Linked DNA regions of Homo sapiens: region 1 is linked to region 2. The links come from fine-mapping of genetic effects on gene expression. Tissue or cell type: whole blood. Region 2 holds a variant in brackets; the other region holds the start of a gene. All regions are shown on one strand. Distances are between the middles of the regions.

The links. PIP is the estimated chance that this variant, and not a neighbour inherited with it, causes the effect.
Region 1: it holds the start of CAPS, and the variant in region 2 is fine-mapped to the expression of CAPS in whole blood (TOPMed, PIP above 0.99).

What each region holds. Positions count from the first base shown.
Region 1 is chr19:5,910,743-5,919,049 of GRCh38, reverse strand. CAPS (calcyphosine) reads right to left here and starts at 4,796. Exons shown (of 5, transcript NM_004058.5): 1 at 4,741-4,796; 2 at 4,561-4,665; 3 at 4,310-4,487; 4 at 3,904-4,110; 5 at 2,839-3,829. The coding sequence starts at 4,643. The coding sequence ends at 3,728. It overlaps VMAC (vimentin type intermediate filament associated coiled-coil protein), which reads right to left. Exons shown (of 2, transcript NM_001017921.4): 2 at 8,197-8,307. It overlaps RANBP3 (RAN binding protein 3), which reads left to right. Exons shown (of 17, transcript NM_007322.3): 15 at 412-554; 16 at 1,070-1,256; 17 at 1,397-2,911. The coding sequence ends at 1,440.
Region 2 is chr19:5,932,456-5,940,778 of GRCh38, reverse strand. It overlaps RANBP3 (RAN binding protein 3), which reads left to right. Exons shown (of 17, transcript NM_007322.3): 6 at 7,300-7,365; 7 at 8,235-8,323. Among named protein-coding and RNA genes, the nearest start is that of CAPS, 22 kb to the right of the region's middle. RefSeq lists a silencer at 825-1,005. The variant C/G (reference allele first, on the strand shown) is at 3,110.

The DNA.
Region 1 (8,307 bases), 22 kb after region 2:
GCATGCACCTTGAGTGTCAGCCCCTGCCTCCCGCAGCCCACCCCGTACTCCTCTCTAATCCCCCCTTCTCCAAGGGAACTGCCATCCTGGTGCCCACCTGTGTGGACCAAACACAACCTCCCACAAGCTGCATGTGGCCTCTGGTCACTGATCTGCAGCACCAGCCTGTGCAGCCACCTGCAGTTGTGGCCTTCAGTGGTCCAGGCTTGGGGAGGAGGAGCCCCGCCCCGGGAGCAGGTGTGCCAGGGCTGGCCTCAGGGAGAAGTCTTGCTCTGTGGGTGGGTCCTGGGAGGATCATGGGCTTTTGCGCGGTGATGTCGCTTTCCATCTGGACTGTGTTGGCTCTTGGAGCTGGCTGTTTGTGAGGGGGCCGGTGTGGGGGCCAGGGCTGAGTGGCCTTGTTGGTTGTAGTGATGCGGACCCAGGGGAGCCTGCGACTGATCCTCAACACCAAGCTGTGGGCCCAGATGCAGATCGACAAGGCCAGCGAGAAGAGCATTCGCATCACAGCCATGGACACCGAGGACCAGGGCGTGAAGGTCTTCCTGATCTCGGTGAGCCAGCCACGCGGGTGCATCTGGGACCCCTCATCCTGCCAGCCCTGTGGGGGTTCCTGGGCACACAGATCAGGCAGGACGGTGGGGAGGGGAGGGGGGAGGGGCTTCAGTTGCTTCCTGGGACACAAGAAGCACTATGGGACCCGCCAGTCCCAGCCTTCAGGAATAGAGATCATGGTCCTTGTCCTCTTCTCAACCCAGAGAAGCCGCTGGGGTTTGGCTGAGGGGTTGTGATGTGTTCAGGGCTAACAGCCCTGTGGGGCGGTCACCTCTCTCCTATGTCATGGTGTCACAGTCGAGTCCACCAACCCTGACCTCTGGGATATTCCCAGCCACCTGGGAGTGGTGGCATCCTTTCGGGGAGAGGCCGGCAGGCCCAGGGCCAATGGCCTCCCCACAAGGCCTTGTGGCAGTGTCACCTCTGAACCTTGGGACTTGGCACTTGTGTTCTGCAGAAGGCAGGAGGGGGTAGGACTGGGGTCCGGGGGTCTCATACCCTCCTCCCTTCCCAGGCCAGCTCCAAGGACACAGGTCAGTTGTATGCAGCCCTGCACCACCGCATCCTGGCCCTGCGCAGCCGCGTGGAGCAGGAGCAGGAGGCCAAGATGCCCGCGCCTGAGCCTGGGGCAGCCCCATCCAACGAGGAGGACGACAGCGACGATGACGATGTCCTGGCTCCTTCAGGGGCCACCGCAGCTGGTGAGTCGGGTGGTCCCTACCCTGGGGGGGATAGAAAGAGCTGCCCGCCATCCTTGATCCAGTGCTGATCTCCTGGCGGGGGTGGCCAGACCTGGGAAGTGCGGGCTCCATCCTGATGCGGGGCTGCTGCTTCCCTGCAGGTGCTGGTGACGAAGGGGACGGGCAGACGACCGGGAGCACATAGCGGCCGGGAGCCCGGCTGCACACCAGGCTGCTGCTTTGTCCGTCTATCCACCCGCCCACCCGCCCCCACCCCACCGGCAGCGTCCAGGTGCGGGGCCGGGAACCACACACCCCACTGGGCCGGCCACAGTCTGGACCCGCACGTCCTGTTCAAAAGCAGACTCGGGAACTGCCTGAATGTGGTTTGGGACACGAGACCTCATCATATTGATGAGCGAACAAACAAGAACATTTCCTCCCTCCCCTCCTTTGAATTGAAATGGCACATTAAGACTTGTCACGGCTTCTCACTGGGACTGGAGACCTCGTTCCTTCACCCCGCGTGTCGCCAGCCTCTGGGTCCAGCCAGAGCCCCTGGCTTCTCCGCCACCCACACCCTTCCCACCCTGCTGTGGGGCCCTGCCTTTGTGGGGAGCAGCCAGCCCTCTGCCCCTGCCCAGGGCTCCCCAACTATAGGCCTGGGACCCCCGCCCAGCTTGGGGGGCTGCTCGTACGAGTGTAGACACTGGGCCCATTGGACGTGCTGTTAACTACTATCTTCATTTCCCACTTCCCCTCTCTGATTGGGGGTGTATATTTTACATCTTTTTTTCTTTTTATTTTCGAAGGCTTTGTTTTGGTTTCTTAGGTTAAGATGCTCTCGAGCGTTGAGCAGGCACAGCTCTGTCGAGGTCCCTGTCCCCCACCTGTGGTTCTGGCCTCTGAGGTTGGGGGACTACTTGTTTCCCACCCCAGGTTCCTCCAGGCCAAGTCATGGGGTGATGAGGAGTTGGGGCCCTGTCTGTCCTAGGCCTGGAGAGTGCCTGTCTGGGAAAAGGTCACTGGACCTGGAAGGGTCCCCAGGGTCCCCTGACTCCCGTCTCCATCTGTCACGTGGTTCACCATCATCAGGCACCAGGCGCAAACTGCTTCCCGCTGTTGGCCATCCCTTCCCCAGCCACAGGTGTCCCTGCCCCCAGGACAGTCCAGGGCCAGGGGCTTCTGTGAGAGGCAGAGGGGGACCCTCACCAAATCTTGGTGGAAGAGCCCAGGGGCTGGTCCCAGAACAGGCAGTCTCACAAGCACGCAGCACACTGGAGTGGACGCCTGTGCCCACCCGAGCCTGGAGCATGGCCAAGAGCCAGCTTGCACCACCCACCTGGGAGGCCGAGGAGGAGGTCCCCTGGGCACAGGGCCTCTTTGGGACTTCAGAGGAAATCTCCCAGTCCCACTCTCGGAGGGTTAAGAGAAGGCCTCCTGCAGCTGTGCCGTCCACACCTCTAGGTCGCCAGAGCCCTGGCCCCCAGCCCCCAGCAAGCCTGAGCCCGGGAAGAACCAGAGGCCCTCCCGAGAGACCCAGTCACACGTCTCTGCTTTAAGCCTTAGCCAGCTAGTGACGAGTACAACGAGATAACGCCCATGTGTTTTGGAACATTTATGTAAGATTGTCATATGAAATGTATTTGGGAACTACATTAAACTTTTAACTAAAACCCTGGCCTCTGCATGCCCCAGGGGCCTCAGGAAGCCCCTGACCAGGAACGGCCTCCACCTCCCCGGGCGAGGACCTCCAGCAGCCTGGGGCCTCATGCTCCCACCCAGCGTGTCACCAGTGCTGGGGTCCAGCCACAGCCCTGTTCTCTCCACCACCACCCGCACTTTACCCCCACCCCTGCTGCAAGGCCCCGCCGGTCTGCCCCCGCCCAGAGCTCCCAGCCTCGGGCCGCTCACCAGAATGTAGATACTGGGCCCGCTGGACATGTTACCTGCTATTTTTATTCCCCATTTGCCATCTTCTGATTGGGGGTTGATGTTTTACAGATTTTTTTTTCAAAGGCTTTATTTCAGTTTCTGAGGTTAGGATGCCCCTGTGCCCCTCGCTCCACACCTGGGCAGGTCTAAACTTCCTTCCAGGATGGCCTCCACACACAGCCTCCCACCTGGGGTCACCTGGCTTCCTGGGGGACCCGCAAGGGAGGGGCAGGGAGCAGCAGTCCGGGTGCGGGGATCGGGGGACCTCGGCGGGGGCATCCACAGGGGCTGCAAGATCTCTGGTCAGCATGGCGTGGGTGGGGAGAGCGTTTCTCCCTGGGGTCCTGAGCCAGTGACTCCTGTTAGGACCTTTGTCCCACCTCCGCCTGGTGGACCGGCAGGGACCTGGTCTAGCCAGTCCTGCAGCCTCCATTCCCCCACCTGCCCCTCCCCGCTCTGTGGTGTGGCTGCCCAGGAGAGAAGGGGCCCAGGGAAGGGAGGTCTCCGGCAGGGGTGGGGAGTGACAGGCCAGGGCAGCAGGGCTGAGCCGGAGCTGCTCACAGCTGCCAGGCACTGGTCATCATGGCCACGAACTCCTCATCCGTGTTCATGGAGGCACTCACGCCGCTGTAGTAGTCCTGGAATTCCGCCAGTGTGACCTGGGAACAGAGGGCCGTGAGGGGGCACGGCCGAGGAACTGCCTGGGGAGGGGGCCCCCCGCGCAGCCACCCACCTGCCCGTCCTTCTCAGAGGAGTCGAAGTTGTCCAGGAAGCGGCGCAGCACCTCGTCCTCGGTCCACTCCCCACTGCGCACCTTGGGGTGGGCACGGCCACTGTACACCCCGCGGAGGTCGTCCACCGTCACGACGCCGTCCCCACTGCGGTCCAGCTTGGCAAATGCAGCTGCGATGACAGCCTCCCGGGCCTGGGACATGGGGGGCTGGGACAGGAGGTGGTGACTGGGGGTGGTGGGTAGCACACCCAAACCCCCAAGACGCTGTGCAGAGCACTGGGGCTGTATGCCCCAGCAGGCGCCTCTTAACAGCAGCTCTTAGGGAGGAGTCCCCGTCTCCGCATCTCAGCATCCTCTGTCGCCCCATGCCCAGGGCACACGCCTTGACTGTGAGGTGGGGGCTCACCCGCAGCGCCCGAAGGAACTCCTCCAGATCCAGCGTCCCGCTGCCATTGCGGTCCCACTTCCTGCACACACCCTCTGCCTCCGCCTGGTCCAGCACCAGCCCGAGTTTGGCCAGACCCTGCCGGAACTCATCAGCGTCCAGGGATCTGCTCCCGTCCCGGTCTAGTTGGCGGAAAAACCTGGAGGCAGGGGACACGGTTGGAACAGTGGTCTCAGGGGCCGGGGTCAGGAAGGTGAGAGGGGACAGCTCACCTGGCCAGGCCCTGGATGCCCGAGGCCCCGCGGGACAGGCACTGTGCCCGGAGTTTCTCCATGGTGGCATCCACGGCGTCCATGCTTGGTCTGGGCTCTGGGCAGCTGGAAGGGAGAGAGGTCAAGGTGGGGACTCCCGCAAGCCCACCCTGGCCGACTGCCCCTTGTTCAGATGCTCACCTGGCCTGCGTCTGTCCCAGAGTCCTGCCTGCGGGGCCTTGTGTTAGCTGTGTTGTGCCTGGGGAGACTGTTGCTAGTGGAAGGTGCCTCTGGAGATGGGGTGGGGCCCAGCTGCATGAATGCACTGTGCTGGGCAGTGGGGAGTGGGGGAGGGATGGGTGCGCCCAGCCTGACTGCTTACTCAACTGCCAGCCCCACAGGGCCTGGGACAGAGCCAGATCCCTGTGGCACTGCATCCCTTCCTGGCTCCAAGGAGGAGGGGCAGGCCACTGCCCTGCAGGGGCTGAAATGCCCTGGATGGAGACAAGTCCGTGGCTGGGGAGGCTTGACGCATGATTCCTGTGTGACCCTGGACAGGTCCCTTTCCCTCTCTGGCTTCACAGGGGCTTCTCAGCCCGAGCCAGGGCTGACAAAATTGCTGAGGAATCAAAGTTCAAAAGGGCCCCAGGTTCTGACCGGCCACTGCGGCTCATGCCTGAAATCCCAGCACTTTGGGAGGTCTAGGTGGGAGGATCACTTGAGCCCAGGAGTTTGGACCAGCCTGGGGAACATATAGAGAACTTGTTTCTATTGTACAGCAACAAAAATGCCCCAGGTGGGCTGGGCGCGGTGGCTCATGCCTGTAATCCCAGCACTTTGGGAGGCCGAGGTGGGCAGATCACAAGGTGAGGAGTTTGAGACCAGCCTGACCAACATGGTGAAACCCCGCCTCTACTAAAAATACAAAAATTAGCCGTGCATGATGGTGGGCGCCTGTAATCCGAGCTACTTAGGAAGCTGAGGCAGGAGAATCGCTTGAACCCAGGAGGTGGAGCTTGCAGTGAGCCAAGATTGCACCACTGCACTCCAGTCTGGGCGACAGAGCAAGACTCCATCTCAAAAAGAAAAAAAAAAAAAAAGCCCCAGGTGGCCCAGGTCCTGGGGCCCTAAGACCTCCCACCCAGGCCCACCTCCAAGGGCAGGTCCTGCAACCCACAGAGACTGAGCTGAGCCTGAGGGACACCTCTGCTCACTGCCACAAAGCTTGTCACTGGCCGTTGTTAGGAGCCAGTCCCAGGATTTCTGTCTTTACGGATCTTTTGTTGTTGGTTTTCAGGCCTGAAACGTGACTTAGTGGGCTGGCTCCTGACAAGGTGGTGAGCCAGAGGTTGTGACCCCGAGTGGAAGAGCAGCCCTGATCCTGGACATAAACCTCAAGAGACGAAGCCACCTCACTGAAGGCCTTCAACGGAGACATCGGATATACCTGCCCGCTAAGATAGGTGGGTTTTCCAGGACTTGAAACGTGGGCCCTGTTTGAGGACCCACTGTTCGCCCCGACCCAAGGATCATCAATCGGAGCCTTCTCCAAGCCTGGCTTTACCTCGCTCACAGCACAATTATATTGTCAGAAGTTGCCTTGCCTGAGCGCGGTGGCTCATGCCTGTAATCCCAACACTTTGGGAAGCCAGGGCAGGAAGATCACTTGAGCCCAGGAGTTTGAGACCCGCCTGTGCAACATAGTGAGACCCCCCCATCTCTACAAAAACTACAAAAAATTAGCCAGGCATGGTGGTGTGTTCCTGTAATCCCACCTACTTGGAAGGCTGAGGCAGGAGGATCACTTGAGCCCGGGAGTTGGAGGCTGCAGTGAGCTATGATCGCACCACTGCACTCCAGCCTGGGTTACAGAGCAAGACGCCCGCCTCTTAAAAATAAGTAAATAAACTGGCCGGGCACGGTGGCTCACGCCTGTAATCCCAGCACTTTGGGAGGCCGAGGCGGGCAGATCATGAGGTCAGCAGTTCGAGACCAGCCTGGCCAACATGGTGAAACCCTGTCTCTACTATAAATACAAAAATTAGTCAGCCGGGTGCGGTGGCTCATGCCTGTAATCACAGCACTTTGGGAGGCCGAGGCAGACAGATCACCTGAGGTCAGGAGTTTGAGACCAGCCTGGCCAACATGGTGAAACCCTGTCTCTACTTAAAATACGAAAAACTAGCTGGGCGTGGTGGTATGTGCCTGTAATCCCAGCTACTCGGGAGGCTGAGGCAGGAGAATTGCATGAACCTGGGAAGCGGAGGTTGCAGTGAGCCGAGATCGTGCCATTGCACTCCAGACTGGGGGACAAGAGCAAGACTTTGTCTCAAAAAAAAAAAAAGAAAATTAGCCAGGTATGGTGGCGGGTGCCTGTAATCCCACCTACTCCAGAGGCTGAGGCAGGAGAATCACTTGAACCCAGGAGGCAGAGGTTGCAGTGAACCAAGACCATGCCACTGCACCACAGCCTGGGCGACAGAGTGAGACTCTGTCTCAAAAATAAATAAATAACTTAAAAAAAGAGGCCAGGGCTGGGCGCGGTGGCTCACAGCTGTAATCCCAGCACTTTGGGAGGCTGAGGTGGGCGGATCACTTGAGGTCAGGAGTTCAAGACCAGCCTGGCCAACATTTTGAAACCCCATCTCTACTAAAAAAAATAAATAGCTGGGCATGGTGGTGCATGCCTGTAATCCCAGCTACTCAGGAGGCCAAGGCAGGAGAATCACTTGAACCCTGGAGGCAGAGGTTGCAGTGAGCCTAGATCACACCACTGTACTTCAGCCTGGGTGGCAGGGTGGCAGAGCCAGACTCCGTCTCAAAAAAAAAAAAAAAAAAAAGTTGCCTTTGGAGTCTGAAACCAATCTGTAGGTTACAGGCATCCCAGCATCTTGATTCAGGCCACCACTGATGTAACATCATCAGTTTTATGAGAAATCATGGTGACATCTGGCTGCCAAAATCCTGGTGGCTCACTGCAATCCAGAATTATTTAAATAGGCAGAGAAATACTTTCATGTCTATGAGTGTTACAAGCAGCATTTTTTTTTCTGTGTAGAGAACTATAAAATATAACCACTATTACTGAAGTGCTGTTTTGGCATCTCATTTGTAAATGTTTAGTAAGAATTTCTTGGGAGGCCAATGCGGGAGGATCACTTGAGGCCAGGAGTTCAAGACCAGCCTGGGCAATGTAATGAGACCTTATCTCTAGAAAAAATGCAAAAACGCAGCCAGGCATGGTGGCATATGCCCATGGTCCCAGCTACTTGGCAGGCTGAGGTAGCATGATAGCTTGATCCCAGGATTTTTTTTTGAGACGGAGTCTCCCTCTGTCGCCCAAGCTGGAGTGCAGTGGTACAATCTCGGCTCACTACAGCCTCCATCTCCCGGGTTCAAGTGATTCTCCTGCCTCAACCTCCCGAGTATCTGGGATTACAGGCACGCGCCACCACACCCGGTTAATTTTTGTGTTTTTAGTAGAGACGGAGTTTCACCATGTTGGTCAGGCTGGTCTTGAACTCCTGGCCTCAGGTGATCCACCTGCCTTGGCCTCCCAAAGTGCTGAGATTATAGGTGTGAGCCACTGGCCCAGCCAAGACCAGGATTTTGAGGCTGCAGTGAGTTGTGATCACACCATTGCACTCCAGCCTGGGCAACAGTGAGACTTTGTCTCTTTAAAAAAAAAAGAAAGAAAGAAAGAAAACAGAATTTCAGCAATAACTTCCCCCAGAATTGGAAGTGGCCCTGGCCCTCCAGACCCGGAGT
Region 2 (8,323 bases):
GTCTTAGCTGTCTGTAGTGCCAACTTGGACATACATGAGTGTTTAGACAGGTTCTCTGGTTACCCAACTGAAATCCATTCCTGGAAAGTTCATGTAAATCATTTTACAGTCCTGAACCTTCAGGATGTCAAGTTGTTTCTGCTTACAGAAGTCACGCATGCGTTACAGGAACACACAGCGTAGGAAGCCAGGGTCCTTCCCAAGTCACCCCTCCACACCCTTGTTTTCATGCCCTTTTCCCATCACGTTGGTTTTGGACATGGCCGCGTCTTTTTGCACAGCTGCATTAGGTTTTCCAGTGCTATTACACTGTCATCTGCTGACTGGATATTGCGGAACTGTCCAGATGGCTTGCAGTCCAGGCTGCAGTTGGCATCCTTTTAATTTAAGGATCTTTGCACCTGTGGATAGGTGTTCTGTGGAATGAGGGAGCTCCACTTCCTGCTCGTTGATTTTATTCCTTCCCCCTCACTGCCCACTGCTGAACCATGCTTGCTGTATCGAAAACCAGCATAGAGAAGAGGAGGTGTTTGGGCTGTGAATGTAGGCTAAAGAGGCGAGGGACCACCATTCTTCTCCCCGGCCCTCTTCAAATCACCTCCCGTCCAGCGCAGCAGCCCCCAAGAGACACTCAGCTCTCCAGGGTAACTGGAGGCGTGAGGGGCACCAATAATTTGAACAGTGTTGTCTTTGGTTCCATTCTGCGTAGAGTGAGTTCTTCCCCTACGAATTCCACTTCATTTGTGGAAACCTGTTGGCTGGCCCACACCCTGGGAAGCAGTTGCCCTGGTGAAGGAAGATCTTAGGTGGGGGAGGGGGAACCCCATGGACAAGCCTTGACAGGTGAGGAGGAGTCAGGGCCTCCAATGTGGCCTGGAGCATCTGATATCTCCCCTGCCGGCTGCCCCTGCAGAGGTGCAGGGACAAGGGGGTGCCCCCAGTTGACCAGAGTTGACTGTAGTCATCAGACAGATCAAGGCCGTCGGGCTGGAGACCCTCGTAGTGCTGTAAAGAGTCTTGGGGTTTGCTGTTCTCGGGAAAGACTGAATGCCCTGTTTGCGTGCTGTTCCGTCTCCTCCCGTGGGACGTGAGAATCCACCCCTCAGGTGGGAGAGGTGATCTCTGAGCGTCCACCCCACCCATTCATGCTGTTTTTCCTCTTGTTCCCTCCCCCGCCTGCACCTCCTTGTCAACAGTTTCAAAAAACAATGTTTTTATGCCATCAAGCTTCTGCGAGCCATCTGCAGGCAATTCCGACTCAGAGCCAAGTGAGCCCCGGCCCCTCTGCCTTCCCGCCCGGCCTGGGGGTTCTCCTGGGAGGAAAAGCAATTGGTGTGGGAAAATCAGATCTTCAGCGGGCATTTAAAGTCAGTTCTTCTTCAGCTGTTAAAATTTTTCCCCCAACTCTTCAGCTCATAGTCTGGGGATCTGGCGTGAGATGAGGCTTCATAAGCCCTCATGTTTGTTTCTGCAAGCAGGGCCTGGTTGCATGGAGCTCTAAGTCCTCTAAAAACAACCTGTGAAGAAATGTATCACTCATTTTTCAAAATTTTATACAAGTAATGCATTCATAATTGGGGTTTTTTGGTTTTTTAGACAGACTTTCACTCTTTTTGCCCAGGCTGGAGTGCAGTGGTGTGATCTCAACTCACTGCAACCTCCGCCTCCCGGGTTCAAGTGATTCTGCTGCCTCAGCTTCCCGAGTAGCTGGGATTACAGGCGCACACCACAATGCCGGGGTAATTTTGTATTTTTTTAGTAGAGACAGGGTTTCACCTGTTGGCCAGGCTGGTCTCCAACTCCTGACCTCAGGTGATGCACCTGTCTCGGCCTCCCAAAGTACTGGAATTACAGGCATGAGCCACCGCACCTGGCCCATAATTGTTTTTTCTTTAAAGTAAATCAGAAATATTTCAACTAAAAAGAATCCCTGCCCCTTCCCCACTCACCCTGCCATCCCAAAGGTAACGCCTGTGAAGTTGGTGAATTTCTAGACCTCTTTTTTGTGCATTCTCACATTAATTTTGCTCAGACCTACCTAGATAAATATGTTTAATCACAGCTTCAAAACTTTTTGTGTGTTTTGGAGACGGAGTTTCACTCTTGTCCCCCAGGCTGGAGTGCAATGGGGCGATCTTGGCTCACTGCAACCTCTGCCTCCTGGGTTCAAGCAATTCTCCTGCCTCAGCCTCCCAAGTAGCTGGGATTACAGGCATGTGCCACCATGCCCAGCTAATGTTTTGTATTTTTAGTAGAGACGAGGGTTTCACCGTGTTGGCCAGGCTGGTCTCGAACTCCTGACCTCAAGCGAGCTTCCCGCCTCAGCCTCCCAAAGTGCTAGGATTACAGGCGTGAGCCACCACGTCTGGCCCCCAGCTTTAAAATTTTAAGGAAAGCCGCTCCCCCTTTCTGAAGAATATGGAGCCTGCCTTTTTGGTCTTTCACTGGAGAACCAACTCCAAGGTTTCCTGAAAGTTTCTCCCACGTGGCTGAAATTCCTCATAAAAGATTTAACAAGCGAGTTTAACAACCTGAATTCTGTAACCCAACCTACCATATATAAATTCATTGCCGACTTCAAAAGCATTGTGAGATAAGTTAGCTGCTGGCGTGATGTCCGTGTCAAGGGAAGAGGTGGGTTCTTATAACTCTCAGCATTGAGTTGATGGCCCCGTTTCAACAAGGCATTTTGACTCTAAAAGCAAACTGTTTTGAGCCGACCACCTGGTCTCATCCTGCAGAGGGGCTTGGTGTTTCAGGGTCCTCAGGAAGGGCACGATGTTGGTTATTCCTGGGGTGTCGCTTAGCAGGTGGTGGTCTGGATGGGGGCACAGAGCCTGCCACGGTGAGGCAGGTTCTGCTTTAGGTGATCAGTTACTAAAGCCGTGTGTCTGGACCCATTTGTGCTGCTGAGCTCTGTTACAAATCTCATGATCGCTTCTGAGGTCTGTGAGCAACGGCCTCCCTCCTGTCTCTCTCCCCACAGACCTTTCCCCTCCAGCCTCGAGCAGGGCAGCTGTTTCGCAGGCCCCGACGCGGCATGGTTTAAAGCCCCAGTGCCCTCACGCATGAAAAGGCAGTCATATCAGCCACACATCAGTTCTGCAAA[C/G]CCAACTTCACATCCTTGTCTGCCTGCCTTCTGTTTTTTAGCTTTAATTTTGAAAAGCTTTAACACTTACAGAAGAATTTCTCTGTCCCTTTTGTCTGAAGACCCCATTTAGCTTTCTCCAGTCAGCTCCATGAGTCCATTAGAAAAAAGGACTGAGACCCTGGTCCTACCACACATACCTCCACTTTTATCGGGAACAGGTCTTCAGGCTTCCCTTGACTTTCATGACCTTGAGGATTACAGGTCAGCTGTTGGGTAGAAGTGTCTCAGTTGGGGCCTGTCCAGTATGTCCTGGTGGTGAGACCCAGGTGTGGCATCTTGGATGAGAATGTCACAGAAGCCATGCACAGTACTCACTTGTCCCCTTACCAGCACGGGGTGGCCGTGCTCCTCGATCAGGGTGCTGTCTGCCAGGTTTCACCACTGTAAAGCTACTTTCCCCTTTGTGCTGGATGGTTTCTGAGAGACACTTTAGACTCTGGGACTGTGTGTACCTCATCACACTCCTGCCCTCCAGTGTTCGCGCCCAGTGATGTCTTTAGAGTGATGTTTCCCGCTGACGACTGCCCCATGGGATTTTCTTCCTTTTTTTTTTTTTTTTTTTTTTTTTTTTGGAGACAGAGTCTTGCTCTGTTGCCCAGGCTGGAGTGCAGTGGCACAATCTTGGCTCACTGCACCCTCTGCCTCCTGAGCTCAAGAGATTCTCAAGCCTCAGCCTCTCAAGTAGCTGGGATTACAGGCACTCACCACCCGTGGGATACTCTGAGCACCATCCCTGCCGCGTTGATTAGTGGTGTTCACTGGAAGGAGGAGCTTGCCCTTCTCCCCACGTGCTTGTTCCTTGATCGATTGTGTCAACATAGACAGGCGAGCTTCTGTTGGCATCAGTGGGTGACCGTCTATGGTTACTGGTTTTTATTTAATGTTCAGGTTGTCCCAGATTTGGCCAGTGGAAGCCCTGTCAGGCAGGTCCCCGTTGTTCATTTGAGCACTGCCCTTACTTTGTCACAACAAGAGCCTCCCGGCTCAGCCTCTTTTCTCATCCCAGTCCTGGAATCTGCATTTCTCAGAGGCACGCTGGTTCTTCAGGGAACATGGTCTTTAGAAACCAAGGTCTGAAATCACTCCGTGCGGTACTGCGATCTCACTGACTCAGGTGTAGCCCTGCTCCCGGCCCTCCGCGGACAGAGCTGGGGACACACCTTTGTCCACATGATCTCTTACTCTCTGCCTGCCTGCCTGCCTGCATGTGGAGATGACGGACAGAGCTGGGGACACACCTTTGTCCACATGATCTCTTACTTTCTGCCTGCCTGCCTGCATGTGGAGATGACGCCAGGGGCACGTGGGTGCCTCCCTTGGTATATTCCTCCCTCTTCTGGCACTAAGAAACCGGCACCCTCTGTCCTCTGTGCATCAGGCATCACTCCCTGCCCACCGCATGGCTGAGCCTCCTCCCCACCCTGCACCAGCGCCGTCCACGCACAGACCCCAGCTCCAGCCAGGCTGCCTTCTCAGCATTTGATGCACACAGTCTCATTCCCATCCCTTCCCTGGTTAAATCGGGGCTCCCTGGGGGGCAAGCATGGCTTCCCACAGACATCACTTGGGGCTCTCTGAGGCAGGCGAAAAGCACCCTCAGACAGGGAGCCTGCCAGCTTCCCAGGAGGGCAAAGGCTGCCGGCGGGAGGGGTCCTCTTCCTCTCTGGAGTGATGCGCATCCCTCAGAGACTGGTGCAGCATCCTCTACAGGCCCACACCCTTTGGGTATGTGGCAGGCGTCGGGCTCTGGCCATGATTCAGCAGCTTGTGTTGCGACCTGTGTTGCAGAAGAAAATTTCTGGAAGGAATGAGAAGAGACCACCCTTGTTTTCGTGGAGCAGGGCCTGTGACAGGGACCTCCAGATTTTGGCTACCCCTGGAGCACGCCTTGTCTGTCTGCAGCTCTGGAGAGGGCCACGCTCTGGGCCTAGCACTAGTGGCAGGTCGGTGGCAGGGATTATCCAAGTCTCCTGCTTCCGCTTGGCAGCTCGGGCCAGCCCCCAGGCTCCCCTCAGCGTTAGCGCCAGCGCTGCACGGAGCGGAGTGTGGAAGGGCAGTAGTCAGTCTGTGACCAAAACATCAGCGTGGAGAGCCAGCTTGAAGAGCTTGCTAAAAACTATCTAAATTGTGAATTTGACCTTTTAAAAATGTATCTAAATTGCCAGTCGTCTTCTGCATAGCTCCGTGCTTTGGAAATGTAATTGAGTGTTTCCTTCGGAAAAGGAACATCTGGCGGCTCACCCCCGCATCCTGCAGGATCTGGCTCTCCTGAGTTTGTTTTTTTATGACCAGTCTGTTACGGGAGAGGCACCAGCTCTGCTAACACAGGCTGCCAGAAGCCCCTGGGGCTGGACTCCCTCATACAACTATTATAGTAAGAAGGGTTGCTGCAATCCTCTTGCTGCCCAGGCACAGCGGCGCCTCCGGGGCACAGCGGGAGAGGGGTCTTCCTTGGCCTGCTGAATCTTGATTTGGAGTCTGAAAATTTGGGCTGACAAGGTGTTTTGGGTTTTGTTGTCATCGTTTTAGTGTACAATTGAGTGGTTTTAGTACATCCACAGAGTTGTGCGACCATCACGTGATTAATTTTAGAACATTTCCATCATCCCAAAAAGAAACCTCATCCCTGTTAGTCACAGCCTGCCCCCAACCCCCTCCCTTGAGCCCTGGTAACCGCTCAGCTCCTTTCTGCTTAGTCTGGCATTTCACAGAAATGCAATCAGACAGCATGAGGGGGTGTTTTTCTTTTGATTTACACCTTTAATTTCTTCCAACAATGTTTTTGTTTTGTTTGAGACAAGGTCTCACTCTGTCGCCCAGGCTGGAGTGCAGTGGTACAGTCGTAACTCAACTGTAACCTCAAGCTCCCAGGCTCAAGTGATCTTCCCACCTCTGCCTCCTGAGTAGCTGGGACTACAGGCATGTACCACCATGCCTGGCTAAGTTTTTAATTTTTTGTAGAGTTAGGGTCTTGCAGTGTTGCCCAGGCTGATCTCAAACTCTTGGGCTCATGCAGTCCTCCTGCCTCAGCCTCCCAAAGCACTGGGATTACAGGCATGAGCCACTGCACCCGGCCCTAACATTGTTTTATAGTTTTATCTTGTGAAATGTATTCCCAAGTATTTTATTCCTTTTGGTGTTATTGTAAATGGAATTATTTTCTTAATTTTGCTTTTGGGTCATTCACTGCTAGTGTTAGAAACACAATCGATTTTTGTATATTGATCTTGTGTCCTGTAGCTTGACAAGGGGGTGAAGCTTAGCACAAACGCAGGGCTACCTCCAGGAGCCATAATGCCACAGTCTCTGTGCCTTGCCCAGGAACAGGCTTGCCTGCCTGAGTCACAGGCCTTTTATGACAATCCTTCCTGTTGTGGATCAGATTAGACCACCATCCCCACTCCCTGTATGGGCACAGTTGCCAAGACACACAGATGAAGGGGTCCATGTGGACAGGTGGCTGGGCGAGGCTGGGCTCTCGAGCCATCCCAGGAGCTCGTGGGCATTCACCTTTCCCTCTAGTTTTGTGAATTTGTCAGCCCGGACTCTGGCCCAGGGGGAGCTGGCCTCCTCCACGGTGGCCAGGAGTGCCCCCTCACTGAGACGGGAAGCTCCGCAGGCACATCTGGAAAGGGGAGGCAGGCTCACTGTGTGCCACCTTTGACCTTTTCATCACAAAAACCTGTCTCACTTCCCAGACATCTGTAGTGGTGCCAAGGTTCTTCCTGGCCACAGCCGCATCCTCTGACAGACAAGCCTTCTAGGAAAGGGAAGTGGGGCCTGAGCGCCTGTGTTCCGTGGCTCCCTGACATTCTCCAGAGCCAGGTACAGGGCCGCTGAGCAGCTCGGCTCCTGAGCCTGCAGCAGGTCATAGACAGCTGGGAGGGCGGCTGACGCCCCACCTGCCCCCATGGTCAGCAGCTGGCCCAAGAGCCATCGTTCCTCCTGCCCTTGTCTCTCCCCTCCTCCAGGCGCCTTCCAGGCCTGCTGATCGGACGAGACTTCTGTTGTAATTTGGAAATGTTCTCCCTGGTTCTCCAGGCCCGAAGTCACTGAGGCCAAGACCATAGTCCTCTCCTGCCCTTGCCCCCCAGGCCCAGCCCCAGCCCAGGCAGGCCTGCTGTTGATATTTTGTCTTGTGCTTTTAGAGGAAAGGAGCAGTGGCTTCCGGTTGAAGCCACCAACGCTGATCCACGGCCAAGCCCCCAGCGCAGGTAGGTCGTCTACCTCCCTGGGGCGGGGGGTGGCTCTCTGACGTTTTTCAGACCTCTGCTAGGCCACACCAGGGCACCGCGGGCTCAGCCTGCTTTCTAGAAAGATCACTTGTAACTTGACCCACGAGCCCTGGAAAGTTCCTTTAAAGAGAGGCTGTCTGAGCAGGGAGGTTGGGACCCCTGACTGTGAGCGTCGTGTGTTCAGAAAAGTGGGCAGTGGTGGCACGGGAGCAGGCTAGGCGGGGTGCATCGGGCGGGCTCCATGCCCAGCAGTAGCGCACTTGGTTCAGCCTGTCTGTCCTTCATGTTCTGGCCCCCACATACCACAGTGTTCGCCCCAGTTAGCAGGGTGGCTGCATTCCAGCGGCGCGCTGCTAGTGAGCCGGCTGCTAGTGAGGCTGCCGGGGATGCTGCACAGGGCAGGGCACATGCAAGGGTCCTTGTCCCATCTGCCTTTGGCAGAGGGACTTCCTCAGCATGGCTGTTTTGAAAAACAGGTGCAAAATGTGCCTGTACGTGACCCCACACCGAGTCCTGAGCCTCCAGGTAGCTGCCTGTGAATGCACTGCTCTCCTCCCACAGTCTCCACTTGACTGTTGAGTCTGCCGGCGCCCCGCCACGTTACTGTGCTAACTGGATTAATTCACAGGCGTCGGTCACTGGGAGTTTCATGTAATCACATGTAAAAATAACAGTAGCCAGATCTCCTGGCCAGCTGTTAAAAAAAGACCTCAAGTTTTTAAAAAAGTGCTTCCCTGCAAAGTCTAGCCTGCAAGGGGCATGAAATGGGATGCCAGGGGTCAGTCTCTGAAGCGCCTGGGGGCAGGCAGGGGTCCACGGGCACTGGGAAGGCCGCCTTCTGTTCCTAGGTCTGCCAAGCCAGAAGCCCAAGGAGCAGCAGCGGAGCGTGCTTCGCCCGGCAGTGTTACAAGCTCCGCAGCCAAAGGCGCTGTCCCAG